4 linked regions of the Homo sapiens genome follow. The protein of the gene in region 1 purifies or fractionates together with the protein of each later gene. This does not show direct contact. Each region holds a gene or a part of one and is shown in the gene's direction. Other genes may lie near its edges.

What was found. The genes of interacting proteins can lie anywhere in the genome.
Region 2: the proteins of SPAG6 (region 1) and HACD2 purify together in Homo sapiens (affinity purification with mass spectrometry; one large-scale study listed by BioGRID and IntAct). This does not show direct contact.
Region 3: the proteins of SPAG6 (region 1) and TVP23C purify together in Homo sapiens (affinity purification with mass spectrometry, with the first as the bait; one large-scale study listed by BioGRID). This does not show direct contact.
Region 4: the proteins of SPAG6 (region 1) and SLC20A2 purify together in Homo sapiens (affinity purification with mass spectrometry; one large-scale study listed by BioGRID and IntAct). This does not show direct contact.

The regions. Positions count from the first base shown.
Region 1 is NC_000010.11:22,344,221-22,348,295, forward strand, and holds the start of SPAG6 (sperm-associated antigen 6), read left to right. Parts: upstream 1-1,275; 5' UTR 1,276-1,391; coding exon 1,392-1,416; exon of another isoform or gene 1,417-1,502; coding exon 1,503-1,598; intron 1,599-3,796; exon of another isoform or gene 3,797-3,913; intron 3,914-4,075. UniProt on the Homo sapiens protein: Important for structural integrity of the central apparatus in the sperm tail and for flagellar motility.
Region 2 is NC_000003.12:123,582,254-123,586,310, reverse strand, and holds the start of HACD2 (very-long-chain (3R)-3-hydroxyacyl-CoA dehydratase 2), read left to right. Parts: upstream 1-1,257; 5' UTR 1,258-1,283; coding exon 1,284-1,438; intron 1,439-1,693; exon of another isoform or gene 1,694-1,909; intron 1,910-3,981; coding exon 3,982-4,057. UniProt on the Homo sapiens protein: Catalyzes the third of the very long-chain fatty acids (VLCFA) elongation four-step cycle (condensation, reduction, dehydration, and reduction).
Region 3 is NC_000017.11:15,560,684-15,564,672, reverse strand, and holds the start of TVP23C (Golgi apparatus membrane protein TVP23 homolog C), read left to right. Parts: upstream 1-1,189; 5' UTR 1,190-1,224; coding exon 1,225-1,236; intron 1,237-3,989. Other genes in the region: TVP23C-CDRT4 (uncharacterized protein LOC100533496), read left to right, coding at 1,225-1,236.
Region 4 is NC_000008.11:42,438,732-42,442,231, reverse strand, and holds part of SLC20A2 (sodium-dependent phosphate transporter 2), read left to right. Parts: intron 1-2,578; coding exon 2,579-2,782; intron 2,783-3,500. UniProt on the Homo sapiens protein: Sodium-phosphate symporter which preferentially transports the monovalent form of phosphate with a stoichiometry of two sodium ions per phosphate ion.

The DNA.
Region 1 (4,075 bases):
CTTCGGGGGTATTAGGGACCCGACTAAACACACTTATTCTTCTCTCTGATTGCTGGACCATTCCCCAACTATTTGGAGCTCCACAAAGTATCAGGACTTCATCAAGAGCTCAGTGAAGGGTGAGATCTCAAAGATAAATATAGAGGACTCATTCCAAATATAGAACCAGTTAAGTTTGCATGCTCCCTTCTGTTGAAGAAATATCAAGGGGTTTCCTGTCTTGGCACTACTTAGCAGCAGCTGCGGCTATGTATCCACTTGACATCTGGTGAAATTGTAGTTTTTGATGGAGGAACATTTAAAGTTGACAACTGTCATTGAAACAACTGGTATATAGTTTTCAAAGACAAGCTAGAAACCAGTAATAGACTAAGTACTTCAATTTTGTTAAAAGAAACTGGGTAAAGGGTTCAAGTTATATAAGATAGGGAAGTCTGGTTTTCCAGGTAAAGGTTCTCTCTCTTTTTCTGTTGGAGATGTCATTCATCAACATAACGAAGCCTAAATTTAAAAGACTAAGACAAAATATTTACAAATCACATAAAAGTGAGGAAACAGCAAAATTAGTAGTCATTAGGAGAAAGCCAGGGAAGACAGGACATTCATCACATCCTTTCCTCATCTGCTTTCCTCACTGAGTCTCTGAGTGCTCATTAAATGCTTTCAATACAGTGTAATTAAGTGTGTGAACATGGTTGTCATGCTCCTCCAGGAATCTTGAAACCAGGAATGCCAGGTATATAACAGCGGGTTACAAAAGAAAACACGGATTCCTAAATCAGTGTTTTACTGTCAGTGCAGTGTTAAATGTCAATGCAACACTTAAGTTGCATTGACATTCATGTGTTGATCGGATTGTACAATGTGACGTGTGAGATTTCTCGGGACCGTCGAAGCTCAGACAACTCCAGGGCTGCAATTTACTCGTCTGGCTGCCCTCGAACCAGGCTCCCTTGGCGCGTGGGGCTCTCCCGGCGCTTGGTCCCGACCCGCGCCGCAGTCAGGATACCACGGCAATCTGGGGTCGCTTTGTAAGGAGCTCCGACCTCCGGGCAGTGCAGGGATACTCGACGGCGCGCGATGTCCCGGCGGCTCCGCGAGCCTGGCGCGCTGAGAGCCCCAGCAGTCCGAGTCCTCGAGCTCGGGCGTCTTCGCGCCGCCGCCCCGCTCAGTGCGCCCAGGCACCGCGGCCGTGACGTCACGCCCGGGACTGGCCGTTGCAGCAAGACGGCCGCGTTCCGGTTCCGGTAGGTTGCCCGGGAGACGCGGGTACACAGAGAAGCGGCTCCCGTCGGAGGCCGAGTCGTCGCCACGATCGCCCCCTTGGTGGACTCGCAGGCCGAGCGGCTTCCCCGCAGAGCTCGAGGAGGGCAGACGGCGGCGGGGGCGCCATGAGTCAGAGGCAGGTGCTGCAAGGTAGGGCCGAGGCGGGCAGGTGCCCTAACTAGCTGGCGCCGAGGAGACCCGGGTGCGGTGGGCTCCACCGACTCTCTCTCCCGCAGTGTTCGAGCAATACCAGAAGGCCAGGACCCAGTTCGTGCAGATGGTGGCGGAGCTGGCGACTAGACCCCAAAACATCGAGACGCTGCAGAACGCGGGTGAGCCCGGAGCCCGAACCCCCGTCGCCCCCCGCGCACTGAGTCCCCGACGCCTCCGCCCCGCTGCCCTGCCCGTGGAGCTCTTGGGGAGCCGCAGTGTGGGGACCGGAGTTCGCAAAAGCATCCATTCTTTTCAGCGGGTCTTTGGGGGTCAGGCCGAGAGGGTGAAGCTTCCAGATGGTTGTGGGAGGTGCGCGTTGTCCCTGTTTCCATCTTCATTGCACACAGGCAAGTGTCAGGTTGAAAGTCGAGGCCCTAGGAATTGCCTGGAGTCATTTTACGTGAATGGGACTCTACCCTAATGAGACCCATTTTATCCAAGTGCCATTTTGCATGCCACCCTGCCTTTGATCACCTTCGACTTCCTCACAGCAAAGCAATTCCAGTGGTTTAGACGTGATTTCTCGTCTTGCTTTAGTGAAAGGGGAATGATATGCTTGAATCTTTTCCAAGAAATTCCAAGTAGGTAGAGACCAGACTTTGCGAAATCCTTATGGCGCGTTCCTTCTACTCCTCAGTCCGGACTCTTGCAGATGTGAGAGGGGGAGAGAGGGGGAGAGGGAGGGAGAGAGATCTTCTTATCTCATAACATAAACTGATAAGAGAAAATGGTTCTTCTTCTTCTTCTTCTTCTTCTTCTTCTTCTTCTTCTTCTTCTTCTTCTTCTTCTTCTTCTTCTTTCTTCTTCTTCTTCCTCTTCTTCTTCTTCTTTTCTTCTTTCTTCTTTCTTCTTCTTTTTTTTTGGATGATTCTACCACCATCTGAACTGTAAGGTAGCATTTTATCACTACTGTGTCATGAGAAATCTTCAGTTTATAGGATGTGATCTTTAAAACTAACACATAATTTAAACAATTAACATGTTGACAGCAAGAATACTTAAGTGTAATGATTACTCTGGGTTTCTTTGAGGGGAATTACTACTGCACCTATGTGATACTTCGTTTTGTCACTAGGATTTTTGGCATTTATTCCTTGTGTGTTTTTATTGGGGGGCATGTATTTACAATAAAGTATATTTTATAATCTTCTAAACGCATTTTAGTTTGAAATAATTGTAGATTCACAACTGTAAGGGATAATACAGAGAGATCCCGTGTACCCTTTTCTCAGTTTCCCCAATGGTAACATTTTTCAAAACTGTAGTGCAATATCACAAGGAGGACATTGACATTGATAAAAATTCGTTGATCTTATATAGGTTTCCTCCTTTTAATTGTTCGTGTGTGTGTGTGTTTTGTCCTATAGAATTTTATTCCGTGCGTATCCACCACCAGCACAGTCAAGATACAGAACACTTTCATTGTCACAAGGATCCTCTCTCTTGCCCTTTTATAGCCACACACACCTCCTGCTATCCCTAACCCTGGACAACCACTAATCTCTTCTCCATTTCTAAAATTTTGTCATTTCAGAATTGATAATCCTTTGTTCTATAGTTGTTTTATATGGGTTGATTTTCTGTATTCTGTGTGTGTGTATGCACCCGTACTCCTCCAAGTACCCAGAACAATACTGGGCACACAGTATTTCATATACACAGACTAACACAGACTAAGGTATTAGAACATGTTACATTTTAGAAGTGTATTTAAAAGTAATTTTAAAGTGTAAACTTTTAAAGTTTTTTCTCTCAGTCCCTCTCAATGACCTTTGTGAATGGACATTTACTACTTAACAAAGATTTAGTTTCTGGACAATATGAATATAGCCAAACTAAAACTTTTAAAATGGGAAAATAATTGATATTATTTTCAAATTTTAATACTGAGATGTTAAAGTATACATAACTTTTAAGATACGGAGTATCATGTTTTAGTGAGTAGTGGCAGGTTAGCTCCTCCCATAAGAGTGCAATGTAGACTTCACAATGGAACTTAATCCAAATTGACTGTATAAGTGGCTTAGATATAAGATTCTACACTTATGGTCTGGCTTAGGAAAGATGAATACGAAAGGAATATAACTTTATGTTTTGAAATTCTCTGCACTTGACTAATATCTGGGTAGCATGCTAAAATGTTTCTTTTCCTGAGGGACTTATTTTTAACAAATTTCATGTTATCGAGATTCAATTCAAGCATTCCTTTAGCAATTTTAAATACAGACATAATGAATATTCAATGTATTTATTCTTTTGATTAAAAAAGAACCTGTAAACTTTGTTATGAAAACTTTTCTTTCTTTCTTTGAGACAGAGTCTTGCTCTGTTGCCAGGCTAGAGTGCAGTGGCATGATCTCGGCTCACTACAACCTCCGCCTCCCAGGTTCAAGCGATTCTCCTGCCTCAGCCTCCTGAGTAGCTGAGACTACAGGTGTGCGCCACCATGCCCAGCTAATTTTTGTACTTTTAGTAGAGACGGGGTTCCAGCATGTTGGCCAGGATGGTCTCGATCACTTGACCTTGTGATCCACCCGCCTTGGCCTCCCAAAGCACTGGGATTGCGCCCGGCCAGTTTTCTTTCTTAATAGTCAGT
Region 2 (4,057 bases), on another chromosome or scaffold:
GCGGGGAACCTATTGTGAACTGCGCATTGGAGGGATCTAAGTTGTGTGCTCCTTATGAGAATCTAATGATAAATGTAATGCCTTTGAATCATCCTGAAACCATCATCCACCCCCCCACCACGAAACCGGTCCCTGTTGACCAAAAGGTTGGGGGCCGCTGCTCTATATAATCCCTGGGAGACTGACGACTTTGTCTCTTTCACTTAGTGCCATGAACTCCAGGGCAACTTTGTGGACGCTCCATAAACACTTGCTGGAATGAACCCATAAATATTTTATACTACCACATATACAGTAATACATTTAAGGAGCTGCTTGGGTGTGTAAAAAATTGCAGGGGACGTTTACAAATAAAGAACCTCCTGAAACAAAGCAATGAATGGAAAGTGGGATCAGCTGGTTGAAGCAATGCCCACAAGCTGCTCCAGCTTCCCAAAGCAGAGAGGTTTTCCACCTAAGCCAACATCCTTTTATTTTTAGTCACTATAGCTATAAATCTACTCCCTTACCCCGCACCTCACTCTCAGCCGACAGCCCAATGGGCTTATCCTCCTCTCGCCCTCACGATGAGCGAGTCCACGCGGTCTCAGGCTGGAAGATGCACTTGAACACCAGCCAAGCACTCACGGACGACACTGGATTCTAGGCCGCCTGGGCTTCTCCACTGTACTAGGAATGTAAAATCAAAAGTCAGAAAGAAAACTTCGGAGGTGGAATCTCCAACCCGGCAACGGGTTAGGAAGCAAAGCGCACCTACCAAAGGGCTGGTCCCTGCAGCCTCAAGGGCTGATGGGAAGTGAATCCACCGTCAACCGCCCTGATCCAAAATGGCAGGATACCGGAGCAATAGTGTTCAGGTGTGAAGATAGGGCAATTGAAGAAGGGAGAACGAAAGCATAATTGTTTTGATTCAACATGGAAGCAGTGATTATAGGAGGGCGAATAGCGAGGGACGACGCAACATCCAGCTGGCAGAAGCAGCGGGCCTGGAGAGGGTGGCTACATTGAACTAATCCAAGATGGCGCCGAGGTTGTAACCGGGAGCGCCCAAGAGGCGGGAATTACCCTGATCCAAGATGGCAGTGGCAACTGAGGCAAGCCGAAAGACGGGAGCGCCAGGAGCGTCTTTGCCCTCAGCCAAGATGGCGGCTGCCGTGGACCCTGTCCCGGCTCCGCCCCGCGGCCCTGGCCCCGCCTGCCCCTCGTCCCTTCCTCCGCCCCCTCTCCTCGCGTAGTCCGGCCCGAGCCGCTCGCGCTAGGAGAGCGGGCTTCGGGCACTTGACATGGCGGCAGTGGCGGCGACTGCAGCAGCGAAGGGGAATGGGGGCGGCGGTGGCAGGGCCGGGGCCGGGGACGCCAGCGGCACGCGGAAGAAGAAGGGCCCGGGGCCCCTGGCCACGGCGTACCTGGTCATCTACAATGTGGTGATGACAGCCGGGTGAGGCTGGGGCTCGGGGAGGCGGGGAGCCAGCGCGGCCGGGGAGGGAGCCCTGCGGCCAGCGGCGGGGCGGATAGGATCGGCGCGGCCCGCCGCAGGCAGTGCATTCCCGGCGGGGGGTGCCCGGGACCCGGTACCTGGGCGCTGAGGGCGGCCGAGCGCTGAATCGGCCCCGGTGGCTGCCCGCGAGCTCCCTCCTGCGCTGGGGGTCGAGCCAAGTTCCCAGGCACTGGGGCGCGGGGACGGCTGCCGGGCGCTGGCTCGCGAGGGCCGCGGGAGGAAAGGTGGGGCTGGCCACAGGTGCGGGGCCGGGGGCAGCGGCCGGACTACCTGCGGCGCGGAGCCCGTCCTGGGCGGCCAGATTCGGATGTTGAACGGCGCCAGCATGGGGAGTGGAGGAGCTGTGGCTGCAGAGTGACCATTCATTTGGGCGGCTGTTTTCAAAATCTGGGCTGCGCTTTAATCTGAAAGGTATTGGGAAAGCGTTCAAAGTTTTTGGCCAGCGACATGAGCAGAGCTAGGCTTTAGATGAGTTTAGACTTTTAGGATGGGTTGGGGTGGGGAAGAAACTGGGGAGTAGAAGGCAGAGTTACTGGAAAGGGGGAGAATGGACCCTCGAAACGGTTTTACCCATCTTCTGTCTCTTTCATTTCAGTGCATCCCTTATCCCGGCGGGTTTTTAGTTCAAGCTCTGCCACTAACTAGCTGTGTGACTTTGGATAAATCATCTTATTTCTCTAGCCTCCGTTTTTTCATTTGTAAAACTAAAGGGTTGGTCTGGGTGATGAAGGTTCCTTCAGCTCTGCAATTCTTTATCTTGTCATTTTGGTGAGGAGGATCACAGCATCAGACAGTTATATATTTTTAAGTTATCTTCATTTGTAATTTTTTAAGAAGTCCTAACATTTTATTATGAAAAATTTCAAACATACAGAAGAGTTGAAAGAATTGTATAGTGAACATCCATTTTTATTTAAAGTAGGTGATACATTGTTAGGGTTAAAAATGAAAAACATGAGGGAATACAGTGAAAATCTTTCCTCCCACCTTTCCCTTCTACCCAGCTCCCCTCCCTCGAGGCAGTTAATTTTGTGTATCCTTAAGATGCTGATGCAAGCAAATATGTTTATACATCCCCCTATCCCTTTTTAAAATAAGACAAATGCCAATATATTAATATTTTTACAGTTCAGCACCTTGCTTTTTTTTCACGAAGAAGAAAATATATCGTGGGAGGATCATATATGTATTGCTAGTATTAGAAATGGTAGGTGTTGGAACCTAGGCTCAGAGAAGTTGTGACTTGCATGAGATCATAGAACTTGTTAGTAGAAGTTCCAGATCTAGAAATCATTTCTCTTGACTCACAGGTCAATGAAGAACTAGTACAGATACAAGCTTTATATCACATCAGTGGTCACATAGATTGATTTTTAAAAAAACATCCAGGAATCTCACTGTGTGTATTAATATTTATATATAAAATTCTTGTTGTCTTAGCAAGAGCCGGTGAGGGCATTGGACTGGAGAGGGATTTTGAGGTACATTGGTAAGAAGAAAGAAGTCTATTCCTGAGCAATGAACATAGAGAATGGGGTGGAGGGTAAGGAGTGGTATCTTAAACCAGGAAGATAAATTGGGATTGTGAGAGCAAAGTAAGCTTTTTTTTTAAGGCTGTTAATGGTTGTACCAGTTACACCATTAAATAATTTCTTCTTTTACAAACTCTTACTTGATGTCCTTATGTGATAGTTTTTGGAAATAGCATAGACCACACACACCCCATTGCCTAGTTGATACTATACATTTATCTAAATCCTTCCAGGAGACATACCTTAATAAAAAGGTCCATTTGTTTTATTATGGAACTTAACAAAACATTGTGTTTATTTTTGAGAAGGACAGTGGAACAAAAATATAACATTCACAGCTGTATGCTTAAGTGCTTTCCTGTTTCGTGGTTTGTATTGATCTGGCTTTCATTTCTGCATTGATTTTAGGAAATTTGGCTAAAAAACTTTTTTTTTTTAGCAAGAGCCCTTTATTCGTAATTTTAAAAGGATAGATTTTAAGGTATGGGTAATTGTTCCAGTGAGACAATTATAACAATAGTTTAAAGCATCTTCTTTCCACCCTGTAATTATTAAAAACCCTTTAACTGCACAGGCTGTTTAAAATTTTCCTTTAACTGTTTTTTTCTCGTCTTAGATTTTCTTGGCACCTGATTTAGTGGCACAAGGACCATTTTAGCTTATTCCTTTCCTTTTGGCCTTGATCTCAATAGCAAAGTTGCCAAAAAAATGAGCTCCAGATGGGTGAGGTGCCACTATGCTTTCACTGAGCCCTCTTGGTAAGGTGCTGTCGGTGTTGCAACATTTCAGTGCATTACAGCTTGGCATTTGAGAGCTATCGTCCATAAATCCAGGTTACTCATGCTTGAGGTCACCTTTAGCAATATCTTTTATTGCCACAGCTGTGTGTTAACCTAAATGCTACTTTTTTTATTTTTATTTTTTCCTGATTGCTGTTTTCTCTTTTACTAGGTGGCTGGTTATAGCGGTTGGTCTGGTCCGAGCATACCTGGCTAAGGGTAGCTACCATAGCCTTTATTATTCAATT
Region 3 (3,989 bases), on another chromosome or scaffold:
CGAAAAACAACACAAAACTCCACAGCACTGAGTGGACCACTGAAAACCTGCCATGGGCAGGCTGGACGTACAGGCCCCAAATTTGTTAGCTTTTCATCTCCAAGGGCACGAATGCAATTGTGCTGCCGAAATGTCTCGCCTTTGAGAAACGCGTGTGTGTGTTTTTCCCCTTTCATTATTAGAATATTAGGTTTTAAATGGCACTGGCAAACAGCCACATAAAATTTGTGATTTTAATAGAATCCCTTCAATTAAGGAAACGTGCAAATACCACTATGCCAACAGCAGTCTGACTCGGCCAGACAGATAGGATATTGTCATCATCACCGCTTCAAAGATGACTTAACGCCCCTTAATTTCACATCCTTTGTTCAGGCAAGATCACAGCATGAGCGGCTGGACTTAAAACTGTAATAAGTATAACGTCTCCCATTTACTAGATACTTACACTGTAAGGAAACCATTATCACCCCCACTTTACAACTGACGAAAGAAGTACATAAAGGTTGGTGATATGATTGGCAATAGAGTTCCCAGGCGCCTAAGCTCCAGGGCGCAAGGTCTCAACTCCTGGAGTCTAAGTTTATACCTCCCATAATAATACCGTCCATTAGTTACTCTAGAGTCCTCCTGCCTTGTTTTTCTTAACGTTTTACTTCTCTGCAAGAACATATTTTAAAAAGTTGCTTCTACAATTTAAAGTACAAAAGTAATACTGTACAGGAGTAAGTCTTTGTAAAATATTTAAAGAAAATTATATTATACAATAAAACCCCGCCCCCCTGCATTCGGGGCAGCGACGCTGGGGGAACGACTTTAGAATTTGCATTGGGTGGACAGCAAATACTTCCGTAAAACAGACCATGAAGCTTTCCACTTGGAGCCCACTGTGGCCCCAATGCCTTTCCCTTTCGCTCCTGCTCCAGGCTCCGCCTCCGCCGTGTCCGGGCTGCTCGCCCCGCCCCCGCTCGCCCCGCCCCCGCTCGCCCCGCCCCCGCTCGCCCCGCCCCCGCTCGCCCCGCCCCCGCTCGCCCCGCCCCCGCTCGCCCCGCCCCCGCTCGCCCCGCCCCTGGATTTGCTCCCTCAAAGCGGAGGTGAGGCCGGACTGAGGCTCTTACAGTGGTCCCTGCTGGCCCTTGGTGACGGGTCGCGTCAGTTCCGACCCGGACCCGTACGCTGCTGCGCTGACGTGGCTCCTGGAAGCAGGGCTGGCGTAGGGCCGCCATGTTGCAGCAGGTGAGGGGCTGAGGGCGCGCTGGGAGGGTGGCGGCTCCTGGGACTGGCTCTGCAGGTTCCGTGGGACTGGAGCCCGCGTCCCCCGCGCCCGCTACTCGAACTCGAGGAGGAGCGGGGCGGCCGGGAGTGGAGGGCTGTGGGTAGTTGTCTGAGGAGGGCTGCTGGGGGTTCTGAGGCCGCTGGGGGAGGCGTGACCCGTGCGGCGCAGAGCAAGTACTTCTTGCGGCTGTGGGGACGCCCATTGTTAACCAGCGCGAGTGGGGGTCTCTCTTTCCTCAACCCTTATTGCCGGGGTGGAGTTGAGGAGGAGCGGCCTGCGGGCCTCTTAGCTTCCTGACACCCAGGGGTGCGATGCTATCTTGTAGGAATCGGCGACACCGCCAGAGCCTCGCTTTCAAATTGCTGTTTCCAAACTAATGTTGTTGGTGATTCTCTCCTTTGTGCTCTTAGAGTTAATTGTAGTCCACATGTTGGCAACCAGAGACTCGTAAGATTAATAATATTTTTAGAAAAAACTACTGTTTATGGTCACTTAGATTGTCTTAAGTGTTTTTTTCTTTCGGTTCACACAAAATTTGTTGAGGGATTACTATGACTCAGACACGGTTGTAGGCCCAGGGATAGGGTTGTGACCAGTACAGACAGGTTTCTTGCCCCGTATTTTCGGGTTAGGGAAGTGGGTTCTAGGAGATGGGGGTTGGGTGGGGAGACACGATAAATTGTATAACCAAAGATATTTTCAGATAATTGCAAAGGCAGGGTGATGAAATAACAAGTGTCCGAGGATAGGACAACTAAGATTTATGGTCAGGAAAGACTGCTTATGAGGAGATGCCTTGAGTGGAGAAAATCTAATAATGGTTAAATTCAGCTGTATTACAGGAAAGGTGTCCCGATCCAGACCCGAAAAGAGGGTCCTTGGCCGGGCGTGGTGACTCAGGCCTGTAATCCCAGCACTTTGGGAGGACGAGGTGGGTGGATCATGAGGTCAAGAGATCGAGACCATCCTGGCCAACTTGGTGAAACCCTGTCTCTACTAAAAATACAAAAATTAGTTGGGCGTGATGATGCACGCCTGTAGTCCCAGCTACTCGGGAGGCTGAGGCAGGAGAATCGCTTGAACTGGGGAGGCCGAGGTTGCAGTGAGCCGCGGGCCACTGCACTCCATCCAGCCTGGCTACAGAGGGAGACTCCGTCTCAAACAAAACAAAAAAAGTCTTGGATCAGGCAAGAAGGAATTCAGGGTGAGTCCACAGTGCAAAGTGAAAGCAAGTTTATTAAGAAAGTAAAGGAATGGCTACTCCATAGAGCAGCCTGGAGGGCTGCTGGTGGCCCATTTTTATGGGTATTTCTTAGTGATATGGTTAATAAGGGGTGGATTATTCATTCCTCCCCTTTTAGATCATAGAGAGTAACTTCCTGATGTTGCCATGGCATTTGTAAACTGGCATGGCGCTGTTGGGAGTCTAGTAGTGAGGACGACCAGTGGTCACTCTCGTGGCCATCTTGGTCTTGGTGGGTTTTGGTTGGCTCCTTTATTGCAACCTGTTTTTTCAGCAAGGTCTTTATGACCTGTATTTTGTGCCGACCTCACATCTCATCCTGTGATTTAGAATGCCCTGTCTGGGAATGCAGCCCAGTAGGTTTCAGCCTCATTTTACCCAGCTCCTATTGAAGATGGAGTTGTTCAGGTTCACATGCTTCTGACATTTGAACCTGCGCCCAGGCCGGATGAGGCTGGAGAAACACAACCATGTTGACTGTTCCCACTATTTATTTATTTATTTATTTATTTATTTATTTATTCATTCATTCATTCATTCATTCATTCATTTATGAGACGGAGTTTCACTCTTGTTGCCCAGGCTGGAGTACAATGGTGTGATCTCGGCTCACTGCAACCTCCGTCTCCCGGCTTCAAGCGATTCTTCTGCCTCACCCTCCAGAGTAGCTGGGATTACAGGCGCCCGCCACCATGCCCGGCTAATTTTTGTATTTTTAGTAGAGATGGGGTTTCACCATATTAACCAGGCTGGTCTTGAGCTCCTGACCTCAGGTTATCCACCCGCCTCGGCCTTCCAAAGTGCTAGGATTACAGGCGTGAGCCGCCAGGCCCGGCCGACTGTTCCCACTTGATAAGTTTGTGATGTGAACCTCAGTCGAGCCCTTAGTGCTGCCAGGCGGTCATTCTACATTTCCATAGCCCCTTCACCCTCTCGCCTTAGGCAACTATTAAAACTCAAATCTTCAACGTTTCTTCTCTTATCCTCTCTCAGCTGGTAACGTTGCTTCTTGTTTCACTGAAAATGGAAGCCGTCGGAAGACAATTTTCACACTAGCTGCCTATTTATTTGCATGTTTACTCAGGGTCTCATATTCTTTTATGATAATTGGACTGTCAGTGCTCCATTCTTAGGTCTTCCTGTCTACTGTGTCCTGGTTTCCATCTCCTCTTGCCTACTGGAAGGCATTGTTCTAGTAATTCTCTTTCTTGCATCATCAGTTTTTTAATCCTTTTAAACGTTTGCTCACATCAACATATAAACGTGTTTTAATTTCTCTTACCTTAAAAAATGAAAACTTGGCCGGGTGCGGTGGCTCACACCTGTAATCCCAGCACTTTGGGAGGCCGAGGCGGGTGGATCACGAGGTCAGGAGATCGAGACCATCCTGGCTAACACGGTGAAACCCCGTCTGTACTGAAAAACAACAAATTAGCCAGGGGTGGTGGTGGGCAGCTGTAGTCCCAGCTA
Region 4 (3,500 bases), on another chromosome or scaffold:
GCCAGGCATGGTGGCTCACGCCTGTAATCCCAGAACTTTAGGAGGCTGAGGCAGGCAGATCACCTGAGGTCGGGAGTTCGAGATCAGCCTGGCCAACATGGAGAAACCCTGTTTCTATTAAAAATACAAAATTAGCCAAGTGTGGTGGCTCATGCCTGTAATCCCAGCTACTTGGGAGGCTGAGGCAGGAGAATTGCTTGAACCTGGGAGGCAGAGGTTGCATTGAGCCGAGATTGTGCCATTGCACTCCCCTTGGGCAACAAGAGCAAAACTCCATCTCAAAAAAAAAAAGGACAACTTGATAAATTGTACTTCATCAAAATTTCAAACTATTGCTCTGTGAGAAGCACCGGGAACAGAATGGGAAAAAATGTTTGCACATCCCATAACTACAAAGGACTTGTATTCAAAAAATAAAAACACATTTTAGAAAACAAATAACTCAATTAAAAAATGAGCAAAATAGGCCAGGCGCAGTGGCACACGACTATAATCCCAGCAGTTTGGGAGGCTGAGGTGGGTGGATCACAAGGTCAGGAGATTGAGACCATCTTGGCCAACATGGTGAAACCCCATCTCTACTAAAAATACAAAAATTAGCTGGGCGTGGTGGCACATGCTTGTAATCCCAGCTACTCAGGAGGCTGAGGCAGGAGAATCGCTTGAACCATGGAGTCAGAGGTTGCAGTGATCCGAGATCGCGCCACAGCACTCCAGTCTGGTAACAGAGTAAGACTCTGTCTCAAAACAAACAAACAAACAAACAAAAAGAACAAAATAGCCCAGGCACGGTGACTCATGCCTGTAATCCCAGCACTTTGGGAGGCCGAGGTGGGCGGATCATGAGGTCAGGATTTCGAGACAAGCTTGGCCAACATGGTGAAACCCCATCTCTACTAAATATACAAAATTAGTCAGGTATGGTGGTGGGTGCCTCTAATCCCAGCTACTCAGGAGGCTGAGGCAGGGGAATCACTTGAACCCGGGAGGCGGAAGTTACAGTGAGCGGAGATCACGCTAGTGCACTCCAGCGCACTCTAGCCTGGGCAAAAAGAGTGAAACTCTATCTCAAAAAAAAAAAAAAAAAAAGAGCAAAATATTTGAATAGACACTTCACCAAAGAAGATAGATGGGGCCAGACACGGTGGCTCACGCCTGTAATCCCAACACTTTGGGAGGCTGAGGCGAGCAGTTCACGAGGTCAAGAAATCGAGACCATCCTGGCCAACATGGTGAAACCCCGTCTCAGCTAAAAATACAAAAATTAGCTGGGCGTGGTGGCACGCACCTGTAGTCCCAGCTACTCGGGAGGCTGAGGCAGGAGAATCGCTTGAACGCGTGAGGCGGAGGTTACAGTGAGCTGAGATAGAGCCACTGCACTCCAGCCTGAGTGACAGAGTGAGATTCCATCTCAAAAATAAATAAATAAATAAATAATGAAAAATACTGACAGTACTAAATTTTGTCAGTATTTAGAAGAATGAAGAGGAACTGGAACCTCGTACGTTGCTGATGGGAATGTCAAATGGTACAGGGAAACTGTTTGGCAGCTTCTTATATGGCTAGCACTTGCCATAAATATACTCTTAACCACTCCTAGATATTTCCCTGGAAAAATGAAAACTTAAATTCACACAGAAATCTGCACATGAATGTTTATAGCACCTTTATATGCAATCTCCAAAAACCCACATTATCCACAGAATAAATAAACTGTGGTGCCTTTGTACATTTGAATACTACTCAGCAATTAAAAGGAACAAATTATTGATCCATGTAACAACGTGGATGGATTTCAAAGGCATTATGCTGAGTAGAAAAAGCCAGTCTCAAAAATCGCATATTTTATTATTTTATTTATGTGACTTTCTGAAAAAGGCAATTTTTCAGAAATTGAAATTTCTGATTCTGAGGTTAGTTTAAGAAAACAGAAGGCCAGTCTGGGTGGCTATAGATTTACAGAACATTAGTGCTGGAGGGAACTGTGGTATTCGGATCTGACCCTTTTTTGGTTGTTGTTTTTGGATATGATAACTCGGGCCCTAAATTTCCATCTTTTCCTCAATTGCTGAATTTTCTGGCTAGAGTTTTCCAGGTAATTAATTGAACTTTTGACTTTCTTTTCTTTTCTTTCTTTTTTTTTTTTTGAGACAGAGTCTCACTCTGTCACCCAGGCTGGAGCGCAGTGGCGCAGTCTTGGCTCACTGCTAATTCTGCCTCCTGGGTTTAAGAGATTCTCCTGCCTCAGCCTCCCAAGTAGTTGGAATTACAGGCGCCTGCCACCACACCCGGCTAATTTTTATATTTTTAGTAGAGACGGGGTTTCACCATATTATCCAGGCTGGTCTCAAACTCCTGACCTGGTGATCCACCTGCTTCGGCCTCCCAAAGTGCTGGGATTACAGGTGTGAGCCACCACACCTGGCCTCAACTTCATTTTCTCTATCTAGCTATAACTTTTTTTTTTGTTTCCAAAATCAGTGCTAAAGCATAAAGATATAGATTCACTTTTTAATATTCATGTTTCAATAATAAGAACTCTCTTCCAGAATGTTCAGTATGACTTTGTTTTCTTTAGGCAAATTACAAAAAGAAGGTGCTTTATCACGAGTATCTGACGAAAGCCTCAGTAAGGTTCAGGAAGCAGAGTCCCCAGTATTTAAAGAGCTACCAGGTGCCAAGGCTAATGATGACAGCACCATCCCGCTCACGGGAGCAGCAGGGGAGACACTGGGGACCTCGGAAGGCACTTCTGCGGGCAGCCACCCTCGGGCTGCATACGGTAAGATGTGCCTGGAGAGCTTGGGTTCTGTGGCAGCACAGAGAAGTTCCCTGGGGAGGACCAGCTGGGCCTGGGTGTGGGCAATCTGGTTTTAATGCACAAAAGGATCCCCCAGTTTTATAATTTGAGAAAACCCAGAAGCTAGGGAGGCCTCAGGAAACCATTTCGTAGTCAGCAGAGCAGGCTCACTCTTGTCCTGTGATTTCTTCCAAGAGCTGTTTATAGTCTAACCGGAGGCACTGGGGCCACGCACTGTATGTCTGTGCTGCACCCACTCAGCTACATATGCAGATCTCCATGCCCCAGGAGTTATCGAATTGCTGAACGTTGGTTAACCCAGCTTACTATGGAAGATGCAAAGAGAAAGCTAAATTTGTAACCAAGGAGGTGGTCCCACCATTGAATCACAGAAACCTTAGAAAATGTCCAGACTGACCAGGTGCAGTGGCTCATGCCTATAATCCCAGCACTTTGGGAGGCCGAGGTGGATGGATCACCTGAGGTCAGGAATTCAAGACCAGCCTGACCAACATGGTGAAACCCCATCTCTACTAAAAATACAAAAATTAGCTGGGTATGGTGGTGGGTGCCTGTAATCCCTGCTACTCGGGAGGCTGAGGCAGGAGAATCACTTGAACCTGGGAGGCAGAGATTGCAGTGAGCCGAGATTGCGCCATTGCACTCCAGCCTGGGCAACAGAGTGAGATTCCATCTCAAA